Regions from separate parts of the Homo sapiens genome. Here region 2 is linked to region 1. The links come from fine-mapping of genetic effects on gene expression. Tissue or cell type: whole blood. Region 1 holds a variant in brackets; the other region holds the start of a gene. All regions are shown on one strand. Distances are between the middles of the regions.

The links. PIP is the estimated chance that this variant, and not a neighbour inherited with it, causes the effect.
Region 2: it holds the start of ECI2, and the variant in region 1 is fine-mapped to the expression of ECI2 in whole blood (TOPMed, PIP 0.99).

The regions. Positions count from the first base shown.
Region 1 is chr6:4,074,800-4,082,904 of GRCh38, forward strand. FAM217A (family with sequence similarity 217 member A) reads right to left here and starts at 4,338. Exons shown (of 7, transcript NM_173563.3): 1 at 4,053-4,338; 2 at 2,556-2,649. The coding sequence starts at 2,615. It also overlaps the pseudogene LOC124901553 and the pseudogene TEX56P. The variant G/T (reference allele first, on the strand shown) is at 4,177.
Region 2 is chr6:4,132,454-4,140,558 of GRCh38, forward strand. ECI2 (enoyl-CoA delta isomerase 2) reads right to left here and starts at 3,122. Exons shown (of 10, transcript NM_206836.3): 1 at 3,058-3,122; 2 at 1,096-1,258. The coding sequence starts at 3,107. ECI2-DT (ECI2 divergent transcript) reads left to right here and starts at 3,619. Exons shown (of 4, transcript NR_103764.1): 1 at 3,619-3,795; 2 at 4,908-4,949. LOC107986559 (a long non-coding RNA gene) reads right to left here. Exons shown (of 2, transcript XR_001743933.2): 2 at 7,881-8,029. RefSeq lists silencers at 3,168-3,307, 3,468-3,677.

The sequences.
Region 1 (8,105 bases):
CAGCATCTTTGAGGAGAAAGCAATTTTCTCTTAACCAAGCCCTTATCAGTTTGATAATGCCTATTGTTGAGGAATCAGGCTTTTACAATAATTTGTGGTTTCGTTCACATTTTGTTAAATATAATAACACAGGTTTTCAAAATTGATTTTTAAAATGTAATAAAATGTCCTGTTCAGTGTGCCTCTGGAACACAATGGTGCATTCATCAAACTTTCTATATCTGAGTATCAGATCTAAAAGTCTATAAAAAGCCAGGTGTGGTGGCTCATGCCTGTACTCCCAGCACTTTGGGAGGCCGGGGCAGGTCAGGATCACCTGAGGTCTGGAGTTTGAGACCAGCCTGGCCAACATGGTGAAACCCTGTCTCCAATAAAAACACAAAAATCAGCCAGGTGTGGCGGCACGCACCTGTAATCCCAGCTGTTCGGGAGGCTGAGGCAGGAGAATCGCTTGAACCCAGGAGGTGGAGGTTGCAGTGAGCTGCAATCACACCACTGCACTCCAGCCTGGGCCACAGAGTGAGACTCTGTCTCAAAATACATACATAAATAAATAAAATTAAAAAAATAAAAGCCTGTAAAAATCTTTCCATCAACCACAGGAAGTCTCTAACCCTCATATTATATTCAACACTAACCAGCCCACTACTCATTCTGGCTTCCAGATGTGGAGGAACACTTAGGAAATATTCAAAAGAAAGCCAAAAATAAAACGGGAAAGGTGCTAATAACAACTGAGTATTTATGTTCCAGACATTGTGCAGAGTGCTATGGGGGAAAATGTGGGAGGTGTGTAGAAGATTATAACAATTTATTCTGGAAAACAGAAAGTGAAGAGGTGATTCGTTTATAAGAAAGTAACTTTTTAGGAATGAACCCAATTGTTTTCTGTCTCAAAAAAGCATTGTAAATTAAACTCTAAGCAAATGAAATGTGAGGTATTATTAGATACAATCTCTTCACTAAGGAGGAACAGAGAGAAATAAGCTTCAATACAGCATGAGGATTAATTTATCCACAAAGAGATATCTCCTGATAGGAAGGGTAGTTGAACATTGGAAGGGAGACTGCAGATTATCATTCTCTATAGATTTATGAAAAATATAATTAATAAAATTAATTCTCTGCTCTCTGGCATGATATGTACAAGGGCTAATCTCTACATGAGAATCACCTGGGGAGCTTTTTAAAAATAATAGTTGCAAAAAAATGCTGCAAATCCTGATTTTAAAGAATGAGGGTGAGGGCCGGGCGCAGTGGCTCAAGTGGCAGTAATCCCAGCATTTTGGGAGGCCGAGGCGGGCAGATCACCTCAAGTCAGGAGCTCTAGACCAGCCTGGCCAACATGTCGAAACCCCATTTCTACTAAAAATACAAAAATTAGCTGGGCGTGGTGGTGGGTGCCTGTAATCCCAGCTACTTGGGAGGCTGAGGCAGGAGAATCACTTGAATCCGAGACGCAGAAGTTGCAGTGAGCCACGATAGCACCACTGCACTCCACCCTGGGTGACAGAGTGAGACTCCGTCTCAAAAAAAAAGAAAAAAAAAAAAAAGAATGAGGGTGAGGCCCAGTTATTTGTATTTTAAAGATCCTTTTGTAGTTCACAGCACGATGACTGGGTTTTTATGTTCATGTGTGAGATGCACCCCTTCAGACTTTTTTACGATGTCTGGTGGATTTTTAAGCTTTTTTCAGCTATATAATCCTGATACTTTTGTATGAAATGCACGTGAGAGAAATATCCTCAGCTGATGAAACTGTGTTGTTGCAATTCTAAAATAAAATTAATGAAACCAGGCCAGGCATGGTAGCTCACACCTGTAATCCCAGCACTTTGGAAAGCCAAGGCGGGTGGATCACTTGAGGTCAGGAGTTCAAGACCAGCCTGGCCAACATGTCGCTACTAAAAATACAAAAATTAGCCGGGCGTGGTGGCACATGCCTGTAGTCCCAGCTACTCGGGAGGCTGAGGCAGGAGAATCGCTTGAACCCGGGAGGTGGGGGTTATAGTGAGTTGAGATCGTGCCACAGCACTCCAGCCTGGGAGACAGAGGAAGACTAAGTCTCGTCTCCAAAACAAACAAACAAAAAACACCAAAACAACAAAAAATTAACATAACCAAATTGATCAACTGGTAAAGAATGCTCATTAACTAAACATGAAGTCTGACAGTTTGCAAATTTCTTAAGAGTTGGGACTTGATTATGCTTTGTGATATCCCACCTGCCTTACCAATATTTTTCACAAAGGGTGTGTGTGTGAAAACAAAAGAAGTGAGCACTGCCTGGTTGATAACAAGGCAGCACCTTTAACAAAGCCAAATTGCAATTAGAAATGTTTGACATTTGGAGAAGAGCTGGCTAATTTTCCCTTTGTTAAAAGAAATAGAAAATTTCCATTTGCTGTTCCAAATGTGCCAAAAGGAAAACACAGGATAAACTGCCCACGATGCAAACGCAGCAAGGGCATCACTACAAGAAAACTCCATGGGAGTTACGTGTTAGCAACAGGAGCCGCTGCCCAAACACTCAAGTTCAACAGCGCCTGCCATACCTCCTGAGAGATGTTTGACACACGTAGGCTGTTAGCACAGTTCTCATTTCTTCTCCCCATTTTGTTGTAGCTGTTGCTCTGTTTCCTTAAAATCCTACACAGATTGCGGGATAGGCACATTTATGGGTAAGGGTCAACATTTATAAAAAAGAAAGTGTGAGTTTTGATTTCCCATCTAAAGGAGGTAAGAGAATGCTTAGAAAGCAGAAGAGAGGGGCTAGGAGAGCAGGGTGGGGGTGACAGTACGAAACCAACCAGAAGCAAGGGGCAAGCCTGACTCAAAAGGAGCACAGACAACAGCAAACTGGCAGATCTCAGAACAGAAGATTAGGAAATTGAGATCAGAGGTGAGAAAGCAAATATCAGCTAAGAAGATGAAATACACATTGGAACAAACTATGGTGAATTATCTGGAACTTAGAAAACAGGGGCACAAAGTCTCCTTTTATTCATTCAAAACAATTGCTCCATTTGAAAGCAGGGTTGAACCCTTACAACTAGGCCAGGCAAGCACCCCGTGCATATTTCGGAGACAACAAAATGCCCCCAGGACCAAACAATATTTTCCGCACCAATCAATCAAGGTACCTAAAGGGTTTTAACCCACTGCCGTTTAAGGTAAAAGAATTAGAGAACTCTAAGGTAACAAGCAAAACAGTCACTGGATTAAGGTATGGCTATCTGGAAAGAATCACTTTTTTTTTTTTTTTTTTTTTTGAGACAGAGTCTCGCTCTGTTGCCCAGACTGGAGTGCAGTGGCGCGATCTCGGTTCACTGCAACCTCCGCCTCCCGGGTTCAAGCGATTCTCCTGCCTCAGCCTCCCGAGCAGCTGGGATTACAGGCGAGCACCACTACGCCCAGCTAATTTTTATATTTTTAGTAGAGATGGGGTTTCACCATGTTGGCCAGGCTGGTCTTGAACTCCTGACCTCGTGATCCACCTGCCTCAGTCTCCCAAAGTGCTGGGATTACAGGCGTGATCCACTGCACCCGGCCAAGAATCACAAATTAAAGCCACCGCAGTAATCGGTCTATCTGCTAATCGTTTACAATTGATTGTCTCCTACAGAAAAGTGTATGAAGAAATAGGAGATTTAGTTTAGGTAGGTTTTCAGCCAACACCGGTTATTGGTCCACGAGTGTGTGCATGCCAGACACTAGGTCTGAATGCAGGAGGAAGGCGGTTGCTGAGCAGGTGGCGCTGCCTGGGGCCACCGGGTGTGTGTCAAGAAGGAGGGCATCCAGCTCCTGGAAAAGGCCACCGCACCTGAAGGACGGCCCTGGGGACAAAGGACGCCTTGGGGACTGCGAGTTGGGGGACAGGAGCTTTAGGGGCCAGAGTGCTTGAAGGCGCGTGTCTCAAGGGAGCCGCAAGGCCCCCGTGAAGAGGAATCCCCTTTTCCTCCTGAGCTGTGGCCGGACTGGGTGGGGAGCCCAGTTCCAGGGGTAGCAGGAGGGGGCTGCGGGATTCCCCGGGGCCGGGGCTCTCAACCCACCGCGCGAAGGCCCACGTGTCCTCCCCGGCGTGCTCTCCCGGTGCGCCGCCCCGAGGCCCGAGCGCCTCCGCGTGCGTGGCTGACGGCTTGGAGGGCGCCCCCTCTGCCGCGGCCTTCCTGCAGC[G/T]GGGGGACAAAGAGGGCGGCGGGCGGCTGGCGGCCTTGAGCGCAGCCCGGTCGGCAGTGCAGGGCCTGCGAAGCCCGCGGGCCGGCGCAGGGGTGGGAGTCGGGCCCGGGGCCCAGAGAGACCTTCCGGGGCCGGGGCTGCGGCTCCGCGGGCTTCCCCACCGGCCGGGTCTCCCGGCAACTACCAGAGAGCGGGGGCGCCCGGGGAGGCCCGGCGTTCCACAAGGTCCACGCGTATTCGCGGGCCGCGGGGTCGCCGCCGGCCGCCCAGGCGCGGAGCCTCTCGGGGGTCACCCGGCCGCCGGGCCCGCGGGACGCACGGGGCCGCCAGGGGAGGACAACAAGCCTCAGGCCCTGTCCCTGCGCCCCGCCCGGCCTCCCCCGCGGGGCTGCGCAGCCCACTCGGCCATCCTGGCCTGAAGGGGCCGCCCCCGGCCTCGCGGGAAAGCCTGAGCCTCCCGGGCCTTCTCGGGCCTTCTCGGACTTTCCCCCAGGCGTCCTGGACCTTCTTCGGCCTTCCTGGGCCTCCTCGGGCTTCCTTGACCCTCCCCAGGCCTTCCCCGAGGCCTCCAGGCCCTTCCCTGGGCCTCTCCAGGCTGAGCTCTCCGCGACATGGCCAGTGGGCCTCTGGGACCCGGGGCCCGGCCCACCCGCCTCCACCCTCCATTCCCACCGCCTGCTCACATCAAGCCAGGAGCACCGCCCGGTACGTAGTCCTCCAGACTAAGCTACAATATATACGCATTGATACATGTGAAGTTATATCTATGCTTGTACAATATATTAACATAGAAGAAGAGGCATCCTTGTTGACACCAAGCTCATCCGGTCAGTTTCAGGTCCGTCGTCGGCCTTTCAATAGGAAAAACAAAAGATGATTTTTTTTCTTTTTTCATGTAGAGGATACATGTAAATCACACAGCCCAATTTTGTACCCCGAAATGCATATCTCCTATTACAGCTTCATGAAATAAGTGGAGGGGTGGGGGAAGAATCTCTCTCTATCTAGTTAGATATATCTGCATAGCTATCATCACCCCCACCTTTTGATATAGAGAAAAATTTAAAACAAAATTAATTATATATTTAGGTACAGCAAATGAATACTAAACATTTGGGGGGATGAGATCACGGCCATGTCCCTCTGAGAATCTCCCCATAAAAATGCACTTATATACCACATGTTGAAAACAATGTCAGGGGTTTCTCAGGTTCTTTGATCCCTGACTCCTGACTCTTTCCTCTGCATTTCCATTTTCTCCTCAGAAAGACCTTCCCTTTAAAGAAGCTCTTCCCACCTTCCACCTACCTTACTCTATTTCATGACACCCCGTTGTTATTTACTTCTTTGTACTCCTCATAATCTTGCTGTTTACTTGTTTGTTTTTGTATTGTCTGTCTCTCCCCAGTAGAATATCAAACTCCATGTGGGCCGGGGCCTTGTCTGTCTAGTTCATTTCTGTATCCCCAACCCTTTAAAACTGTGCTGGGCACATAGTAGAAGCACAGTGGTAGAAGCACAATCGATGTAAGTGAACGAACAAGATTTGTGCAGGCCTCATTCCTTGCAGCCTCCTTGGAGGTTTCCCTTCTAGGGCCCTCTCTTCCTTCGGCTGTTTTCCATACTGCTGCTCTAAAATACAGACCTGCTCAACTGCCTCCTAATGCCGGAAGGAGGAAACCCTAATTCTGCAGCCATCCCTTAGGTATCTGCTCATCACCTTCCCAGCGCCCACTACATGTCAAGCACATCGGACATTTTACAATTTTCCTAAACACTCTCCTCCAGGGCATACATCATTGTTACTCTTCCTGTAATAGTACCTCCTTTTTATCTCCTTTTCTTTTTTAACCTGCCTAAATTCTAGTCATTACACTTCTAACTCACAAGTCATTTTTCCTGATTGTTCAGGAAGTGTAATTACTAGAAAAAATACAAAAAAAAAAAAAGGAGAGAAAACAAAAGTTGCTGTCTCCTCCAAGATCCTTGCTTCGTTATAATGATTTAATTACAGCCCCTTACTCAGTTACATTGTAATTATTCATTTACAACGTCTCAATCACTTTCTTTTCAACACCTTGAAGGTGATATCTGCCCATATTCTATCTAACAGAGTGCCTGGCATGTACTGTAGTAGGTAAGGCACTCAATAAATGTTTCAATTGATTTAATTATTGCAAAAATAGTATTTTCTGAAATGTATGGTGTGGTGACTATATGCCAGGCATAGTGCTGAACATTTTATATGGATTAACCAATGTATATGCCTGATAATCCAATGAAGCAGGTACCACCAGTTATTCCTATTTTATTTCTTATTTTTAATTTTTATTTATTTATTTTTTTGAGACAGAGTCTTGCTCTGTCACCCAGGCTAGAGTGCAATCGTGTGATCTCGGCTCACTGCAACCTCTGCCTCCCAGGTTCAAGCAATTCTCCTGCCTCAGCCTCCCTAGTTCCCTAGTAGCTGGGATTACAGGCACCAGCCACCACGCCCGGCTAATTTTTTGTATTTTTAGTAGAGACGGGTTTTGCCATGTTGGCCAGGCTGGTCTCGAACTCCTGACTTCAGGTGATCTGCTGGCCTCAGCCTCCCAAAGTGCTGGAATTACAGGCATGAGTCTCTGAGCTCAGCCTAGTTATTCCTATTTTATAATTGAGTAACCTGAGCCTTAGATGTATTATATAACCTTTTCCACCTTACAATTACGAGAAAAATTGCGAATGGGAGTAAATATTGGGGTACATGTATTTCCAGCTAATGCTTTCTACAAATGTATATCTAGCTGGGAAATGTTCCCCGCTCTTGAGACAAATTATGTGTGCTTGTGTGTGCACATGCACACGTGTGTGTAAATTCCAAATATCTGGCTTACACATTTCCCCTCTTCCTTGCTTTGTGTTTCTGTTCATGCCTTTTTCTGTTATTTCAGAACTCAAACTGATTCCTGATCCCTTAGAGTCCTTGTGAGATTTGTCATCCATAAATACATCCTCTAAGATTCTTTTTTTTTCTTAACAGAACTTATTCTTAAAAATGTTCCTTTCATATTATCACCCCCACTCAACTGGTCTTCCTTTCTCTGGAGACTTTTGAATGCTTTGACATCAGCATCAAAATCATGGCTGGCCATTCCCTCATTGCTAAATGTGCACGGCTGTGGAGATGTGAAATATGAAAGCGACAACTTGGAAATTGTGCCCTCTCCAAACCCTTGGGTCTGGTCTGGCTCTGGCCCAGCGTAGGAGGTTGGACAGTGGGTCATTTTCTACAGCAGCTCAGACCCAGCTCAACATCAATCCCAAGGCCAAAGAAAATGCACCTTCCTTCTGTTGGGGCTCGGAAAACAGTACCCCAAAATGAAGGCTTCGGAAATAGCCTCAGAAACACGTTTTTCTCTGACCTTCTTCTGCCCTCCTGTCTCTCAGTCCCAGTCTCCCTCCGAGGCTAGCCTGAGAAACTAGAATCCCTCTTCTCCAATGCAGGTTACAGAAATCAGAATGCTTTTTTCCCAAAGCCAGCCATAAAACCTAAAAATATTACTCCAATTTTCCCTTTGCCTTTCTGTGTAAAAACTGGCCATAAAGAAATTATCTGACCCCCATTCCAGAGAGTGGCCCATACCCAGAAGGAAGGAATGCTGCTCAGAGAGGCCAAGAAGAATCTAGAGAGACAGGCCTTGCTGGGTTCCCCCACTCAGGCTGTTAGCGTTAGATCAGACCTTTTTTGTCCTATCGTATTTCTACACAGCTGTCCATACTTTGTTGAACCTAAGCATAAAAATGGAAACTCTCCCCTGTATTTCTGAGTTTTCATTCTGTACACTCCCATGTATAAACACATGCTAAATAAACGTGTATGCCTTTTCCCCAATTACTCTGCCTTTTGTACTTGAGTACTTCTCCTGTCTCAGCCTCCCAAGTTGCTG
Region 2 (8,105 bases), 58 kb after region 1:
AGATTCACTTCCCAGAAGCTGAGGGCAAAGCCACACCTCTTCTGGGGCAAGGTTAAATTTTTTACTATACACACCCATATGAAAGAGAAGCTCATACCCATCATAGGACAGAAAAATAGATAACACAGGAGCCCAGAGAGGCAGACATGCCAGGGAAGTCTTTGGCATTGAAACTTAAGAGCTTTAGTTTTTAAATTTTGTTATAAAAATTTCCAAACATACCAAAGTAGAATACTATAATGAATTCCCAATACCCATCATCCAGGTTCAACAATTATCAAACTGCCTTACTTGCTTCATCTCTCTCTCTCTTTATTTTCTTTCGTTTTTGGACAGAGTCTCGCTCTGTCACTCAGGCTGGAGTGCAGTGGCGCAATCTTGGCTCATTGCAACCTGCACCTCACAGGTTCAAACGATTCTCCTGCCTCAGCTTCCCAAGTAGCTGGGATTACAGGTGTGCGCCACCAGTCCAGCTCATTTTTGAGTTTTTAGTAGAGATGAGGTTTCACCATGTTGGCCAGGCTGGTCTCAAACTCCTGACCTTAAGGGATCTGCCCGCCTCAGCCTCCCAAAGTGCTGGGATTACAGGCGTGAGCCACCATGCCTGGCCTCATCTATCCTTTTCTTTTTGTGCTTAGAGAACTTCAACTATCCATGCTATTTCACCCCTATATCCTTAGTACACTTTTCTTAAAAATATCAACATTTTCTTATATAACCTTGACACCATTAACGATGATTTCTAGGTATCTTCTAACACTCTGTCCTTACTCAAAACTTCCCCAATTGTCTTAAAAATACCTTTTTCAGTTGATTTATTCTAATCAAGAGCTAAGTAAGGTCTACAAATGTGAATATTATATCTCGTAAGTCTCTTTTACTCGTGTGACACTGAGGCACTTTGTGCCTTAATAGTATTTCAAGGTCTAATATAAAAAACTGGCATATATATATATACACACACACACTCTTCAGAGAAGAGGGAGCAAGACAAACCAAAATGTTAAGGCCACATTTTAGTAAACACACAGTGTATTTATTTAAGAAGTCATTTGCCCAAAATTCTTTAAATAACGTTCGACCGTAGGCATTTACCTGCTTATATAGCGCGTAGAGTTTTAGCTTCACTTCGTTTCCTGGATCCTTTTTCAAGAGTTTCACTTGATTCATTGAATTTTCAAAGTCCTTCTGACTGGCTCTCATTGCTGTTCTATTCATGTGCAGCTGAACTACCGGGAAACTAGTGACCTGCAGAGAACTACAATTAGGCAGACTGATTTCTATTTGTTCCCAACCCTCACATTTCTGCAGCCTGATTTCTAATTGTTCCCAGCCTATACATAACAAAATGCCATGTTTGTCTATAGATATTTTCTTTATACTTGCCTCAGCAAACTGGCTGCAAATAATTGGCTGTAAGGATTCCAAGATAATAAGTCAATACAGAAGCTAACAGTAGTAACTTTAAATAAAAGGAAAAGTAACCATCCAGGGAGGTATCTGTAAGCAACTAAAGATAAAAGCAGCCAGAACAGGAATGACCATGTAAATTTTGCCAAAGGCAAGAAGTGAAGTGCATGCAAGACAGTGGACAGCAGGAAACCAAAAGGCTAAAGTGCACAGAATTTAGTGAAGTGTCCCAAAGTCCTGAAACAGCCTCTGCACTCACTGATAAGCCATAAGCTATATCAGGTCAATTCTTGCCTCTTTGCTGGCGAAGCTGGTGTTCCAACATACACACAGGTGGAAGGAGGGGAGAATGGATGTGAACATACAAGAAATATTCAAAAGAACACACGAGCAGTTGCTGGCATTCCAGATAGAGCCACAGCCTTCTCAGCAGATGGGAGGGAATCTACCTGCAGTGGAAGGGAGTCAGTGAAGGGGGCTCAGCAGGCGTGCCCCTTTCTATGGGTATGTTTAACCAGCCAGCCAGGAACAGAGCAGAAACAGCAACCACCGCGGGGGTGATCAGCACGTTTTTAAGCACACATAGTGAGCGGGGGTGGGGTGGCAAACTTGAATGCACAGGACTCAGGCCACAAGCTAAAAATGGAGTTCACGACGATGACACTGAATAATAGAGTTAATGGCAAAAAAGATGATTAAAATAATACAGGTTACAAAGCCCAAACCTAACACACAAACACAATTATGTAACTCGAAAATGGTGCAATGAACTCTAGGTTCAAACTTTGGACTATTAGTAACTGATTCAGTAAGATCAGCCTAGAGTAAGTTTTACATTAAAATGATTTTCTGTAAAGGGAAAAACTGCATCTTATATGGCAAATTCCACGTAGAAAACGAAAGAAAAATTTAAAATATCCACAGAAAGCCGAAATGTACAAGTTTCCACAAAATGTGGAACAAATTTATTTTTAAATAAAGCGTGAGTTTTAAAAACAAATAGCAAAAACACGACCATTTAAGAAAATACATAAAGTCGGGAAAATCACTCATAATTCTACCACTTCAAGGCCACCACCGTGTTTCGGTTTTGTTCCCTATGCACAGATTCGTGCGGGTTCCCGGGACCCCAGGGAGGTGCAGCGTGCTTCTTAGCCGTTACTCTGTACCCGGCCATTTCACTTTATAGCATACGTGTTCTCCAAGAAGCAGAGTGTTAAGTCCACACGAGTGATAACGGCTTGCGTTTACCTCGCTTTTAGCAAGCGACGCTTTGCACCCCAGAAGCAGCCCGGCTGGGAAGTGCAGGCCCGGGTGCTCAGCTGGGGCGGCTCACCCGCCCGGAGTCCGGCCCCAGGAGGATGGGAGCGTGCGCGGAGGCAGGCGGAGACCTTGGGGACTGCTGACAGGGAACCATAGCCCTGACCTCCCGACGCGCCCATCCTGACCACTCCGGGCCCAGCGGTGCAGGAGGGCGCGCGTGAGGTCGTCACTTTTTAGCACTACCTCACCGGAAAACCAGCAAAGCAAAATCCTGTTGCCACCTAGACAATAGGGAAGGAGGGTCTTCCAACGGCGGCGACCTTCGCCTGGACAGCGGTATCCTGCGGGCGACCATGGGCCGAACGGCCGGGACTCCAAGCTTACCTCGGACACGAACGCCGCGCCAGTCTCCAAGCCAAGTACGCCATCGCCATCCCTTGGGCGGCTCTAGGGCTGCGGGGGCTCGGGGGTGGGGCCGGGTCTCGGGGGCGGGGCCTAGCTCGGTCTGCGGGGGCTCGGGGGTGGGGCCGGGTCTCGGGGGTGGAGCCGGGACTCGGGGGCGGGGCCTAGGCTCCCGGGCTGCGGGGGCTCGGGGGTGGGGCCGGGGCTTGGGTGCGGGGCGGGGCCGAGAGCAGAGCCCAGGCAGGAGCCTGGGGCATGGGCGGGGCCAGGGTTGGGGCGGGGCCAGGCTGAGAGCGTAGCCACGCCGCATTCGCCATCGCTAGCCCGTGGCCTCCTCTGGGGCTGCGGGGGCTCGGGGGTGGGGCCGGGGGGGTCGGTGCGTGGGCGGGGCGGGAGCTCTAGGCGGTTAGGAGTCGGGGCTCAGATGCGGGGGCGGGGCCGGAGCGAGGCCGGGTATCACCCGGGAGTGGAGGAAGTGCGGGGGGTTCGCGGCGCGGGGAGGGTGATCCCGGGAGGACTTGCGCGGCGCGTGGGGCGGGGCACAGATGCTCCCCGGCCTGGCTCCGAGTAACTGCGAGCTGGAGGCGCGGCTGCTCTCTCGGGCGGACCTCAGCTCTGCGAACCCTGTGGCTGCCGGAGCACTGAGCGCCCTGCCCGGAGTCCCGCGGAGCCTGGCGAGGAGGGGTCGCTGCATCCCGAGGGCCAGCCCTGAGCCGGGAGGTGGGGTAACAATTGAGGGCGTATGCTTAAAAGCTGCTAGGTCATGCATCCCCAAATCGAAGGTTTGCAGACCTGGTAGGACGCCTGGGGGTCAGAAGTGATTTTTGGAGTACCCAAGTTTTTAGTGTCAGTGAAGAGTTTGTGGATATTTTTGAGTTCTGCTGAGGCATTTGCAAAGTATTTTCTTTGGGGAAGAATTCTTAAGAGTTGGAAGGGCCTTGGCTGTGTCACCTTGTCCAGTTCCCAGAGAACCAAAAAACAAAACAGAACAAAACGAAACAAAACCACCCCTCTAAATTCTGTGCCCAAGTTGTCCCATCCAAGCATGCCTAGGAGTTTTAGATTTATGTAGCTGACACCTGTGGACTACCTATAGTGAGCCAGGCTAATTGTAAGTCTTTGGACAACCCTGTAAGGAAAATGATATTGCCCTGTTGAGCTGATGTGGAAATTGCCCTGTTGAGCATATTGCCCTGTTGAGCTGATGTGGAAACTGAGACCCAGAAAGATTAATCAGGTGAATTCCCCAAAGACAGGAGGCTTGCAGGTGGGCAGAGTCCAAGTCTCAAGTAACTTTATCATTAAGTTTCATCAGGTAGATCTGGGTAATAGTGTAGATGGGGCAACACCAAAAGTCAAATAGAACAATTTGGGCTTATCCCAAAGAGATTTTTTTTTTTTTGAGATGGAGTTTCCGTCTTGTTGCGTAGGCTGGAGTGCACTGGCACAATCTCGGCTCACTGCAACCTCCACCTCCTGGGTTCAAGTGATTCTCCTGTCTCGGGCTCCCGAGTAGCTGGGATTACAAGCATGCGCCACCAGGCCCGGCTAATTTTTTGTATTTAGTAGAGATGGGGTTTCACCTTGTTGGTCAGACTGGTCTCAAACTCCTGATTTCAGGTGATCCACCCGCTTCGGCCTCCCAGTGTTGGGATTACAGGTGTGAGCCACCACACCTGGCCTCTCCATATATTACAAAGTGGTAGTTGGTAGGCTGAGCTGCCTCTCTCAGAGACCTTGACTCTCTCCAAGGCTGTTAGATAACCTCAGAGGTAATGGAAATGCAGTAATCAGATATTGCAGATAATACAAGACTCATTCATTTCCAGAAGATGAAACAGCTGTCATGGAAATATTTTTTAAATCTCATACTGGTAAGCATATTTTGATAGTGAAACCTTTTGCAATGCAAGCAAACTACTCTCAGGCTTATACCTACCACAGAAAAGAGTGGGGTGTGGGAAATTAGCTTATCTTTTTCAAACTATAATTTTAAAAATATAGAAAGAGCATGTGTCAAAGATTTACTTAGCTCATTAATTAGGGAACCAACAGGGTGCTAAAGAAGAAGTTAAAAGACTAGTTTAATATAGTCAATGTTAAAAAAAGAATGCTGGAATAGATTGCAAAGTTAGAAACAAAACTGGTTAATATCCCATAGAGCAATAAAACCATAACCTCGGGAGGAATGTTTTTCCTATTGGAGAAATCATTTGCATATCTACCAGCTGTCATTTACTAAAGCCCCATTATATCCAGCATTTGAGAGAAAGGAGATGGTTAAAGAGACAGACATTCCTGGTTAAAGAGACAGACATTTAGATTCCTAGATCCTAAAGAGGGTCATCTTGGGTCCGTATTTGGTTTACTAAACTGTTAAGAGGTGTCCAGACCATGCCTTGTAAACATGGCTGCCATGGCCCTGTGGGTGGGAGGGCCAGTTGCAGCAAAAGGGAACCATTGTGATTTTGGTAGATTCTCCACCTGAGCTTGAAGATCATTGTATCTGTGCTAAGGAGTTTGGATTCCGTGCTGAGAGCAAGCAGAGAGCCATTGAAGATACAATTGGCATGCCCAGCTATCCAGTTCTCAGTGAAATCCTGGACTCCAGATATATCTTCAGGGTGTAATGGTTCTGGATAAGAGTAGGAAAGGCAGAAACTCAGTCAAGACCTCTCTAAAGCTCTAATCTTCACCCTGTTATATAACCAGCTTCCCCTGGAGCTTATGAAAATCTTGGGGAGGGGGTCCTCCAGTCTGGTTAGATCCTGTCTTATTGATTGCAGGGGACTGATGCTGCCTGGGAGGGCCGTTGATGTTCTTTGGGTTGAGAGAATCTCAGACTCTCTTAGCAGGTGCACAGGAAGTGTTGTCTCCGGCTATAATGAATCTTTGGGGTCAGCATATCGACTTCACAGTGTTGTGCTCAGTGGTAGTGTGAATGTTTCTTTTTTAAGATCATAGAATAGATTATATCAGAGTAGAATGTTACATGATGACTCTGTCAGTCATGATAATTTTTATTTCCAATATTTACATCATCAGATACTGTTGTTACAGCATGTACAGAGTCTGTCACATTCAGTCTTGAGGAACAATTCTGATACACTGTCCCAATTAACAGTGCAAGCTAGAAACCTGGAAGAGTCTTTGATTCCCTTACCTCACTGACACCTCACATCTATCATTCATCAAATACTAGTGATTCTGTCTCCTAAATATATTTTTTTAATTTTCCCCCTCATCTCACATCCCTCTGCATCGTCTTAATTCATGCTCTCATTGATTTTGAGATTACTGTTACCTGGATTCCTGTAGCAGCCACTTCCCAGTTTTGCTAATTCAGTTACCTCTGCAATCCATTCTCTCCCTGCTTCCAGGCTGGTCTCCCTAAATTTTAAATCTTACACTCCACACGATTCTCCCCGATCTCTCCCCTTGGCTGAAAATCTCTTAGTGAGTCCCCTTTGCCTGTTAAACAAACCCAAGCTGCTTAGCACTGGCAAATAAGGCCCACAAGATTTGCCCTTGCCTACCTTCTCAGGCACCTCTTTCCAGCCCCACATGTTAACTTCCCATTTCAGGTGAACTTGGGATGCTCAGTTTCTCTGAGTTTCCAGGTTCTCTCATTCCAGGCATTGGCATATCCAGGAATCTCCTCTGACCCACCCACTGGTTAGTCCTGTCCTGAGTTCCTACAGTCTCCTGGGCGTTTCTTTCTTCTGGCCCCTATGTCACTGTGTTTTATATCTGATTAGTAATCTATTTTATTACAAGGGGCATATCCTGGGAAGAATTCTACCCTGTATTCAACCCCTTTCTCATTTCTGGACACACTGCTTGACAGAAAATACTGTACTCTGTGAAGGTTTGTTGGATGATGGATGAGCTGTTGAAAGTTTCCTTCTAGAGCGTGCTTTTCCACATTTGATAATAAGTTGTGAGTCAGTTGCTACCTTTTCATTAAGTTGTCAGAAGGTGTTAACATGAGTGTTTTTGTGGTTTGAAATGTTGCTTTTTCAGTGAGTGGTAGCTAAAGGCAGAGGACTTTGACTGTTGCCAAGTTCCTGTGCCGAAATGAACTGGGGAGAGTGGTACGAAGGCAACTGTGGTGTTACTTAACTCTATAAATTTCTGGGTGAAAAATCTATTATAGCTTTTTCCATTAGTCATTAAAATGATTAGTCCACGTTCAACGTTCTGTATCATAATTGTTTCCTGCTTTAGCTGGATGACATTGCTTGAGATAAATTAAACCTGTGGCATTATTATGTCTCCTTTACAAAATTAATCCTCTTTTCTTCTTCCTAGCTAGGCTTTGTATTGCCTTCCTACACAATCTTATATGTCAGAGATATTAAAAATAGTATGCTGGAATATTACCTGCTTTGGGGTGTTTTTCTTATTTCCCATCGTTATAATTTAGAGAAGAAAGTCATTTCAAAAGTAAACATTTGGCTCATGTTATCACCTCTGTCTAAGTGCTTTACACCTGCGTGATTTGTTCATTCATCCAAGGCTCTTTTATCCACTCTTTCTGTATGTTGCACAAGCATTAACCTGACCTTGTATTTGAGGATACTTTTCAACTATCCTTCTGTAGCAAAAAAAAAAAAAAAAAATTATTTTTGGAGGACTCTCCCTCTGAAAATGATTGGAACTGATAGATACACTGTGTAAGAAATGGCTGCTTTTCTGAAGTCATTCCATTTTTTCTTGTTTACACCACAGCTTAAATTAATTTACCTGTCCTAATGAATACATAAGAACAAGAACAATACCTACAATTTAGTTAACCACAGAGAGCCACAAAGACAATTATATGTATTCAACACAATGTCATATAATTTACATGCATTTAAGGGCTGAGAAGAATGTTCAAGAATGGCATCCGTGGTTCGTAGGCAGGTGGTATCCTTATTGACTCAGCAAAGGTGCTCCTGCCTTCTCTGTTCTGCACAAGAAAGAAGTAAATTTAAAATTCCATCCATAAATCAGCAGCTTGACTTTAAATAAGATTAGAAAAACAT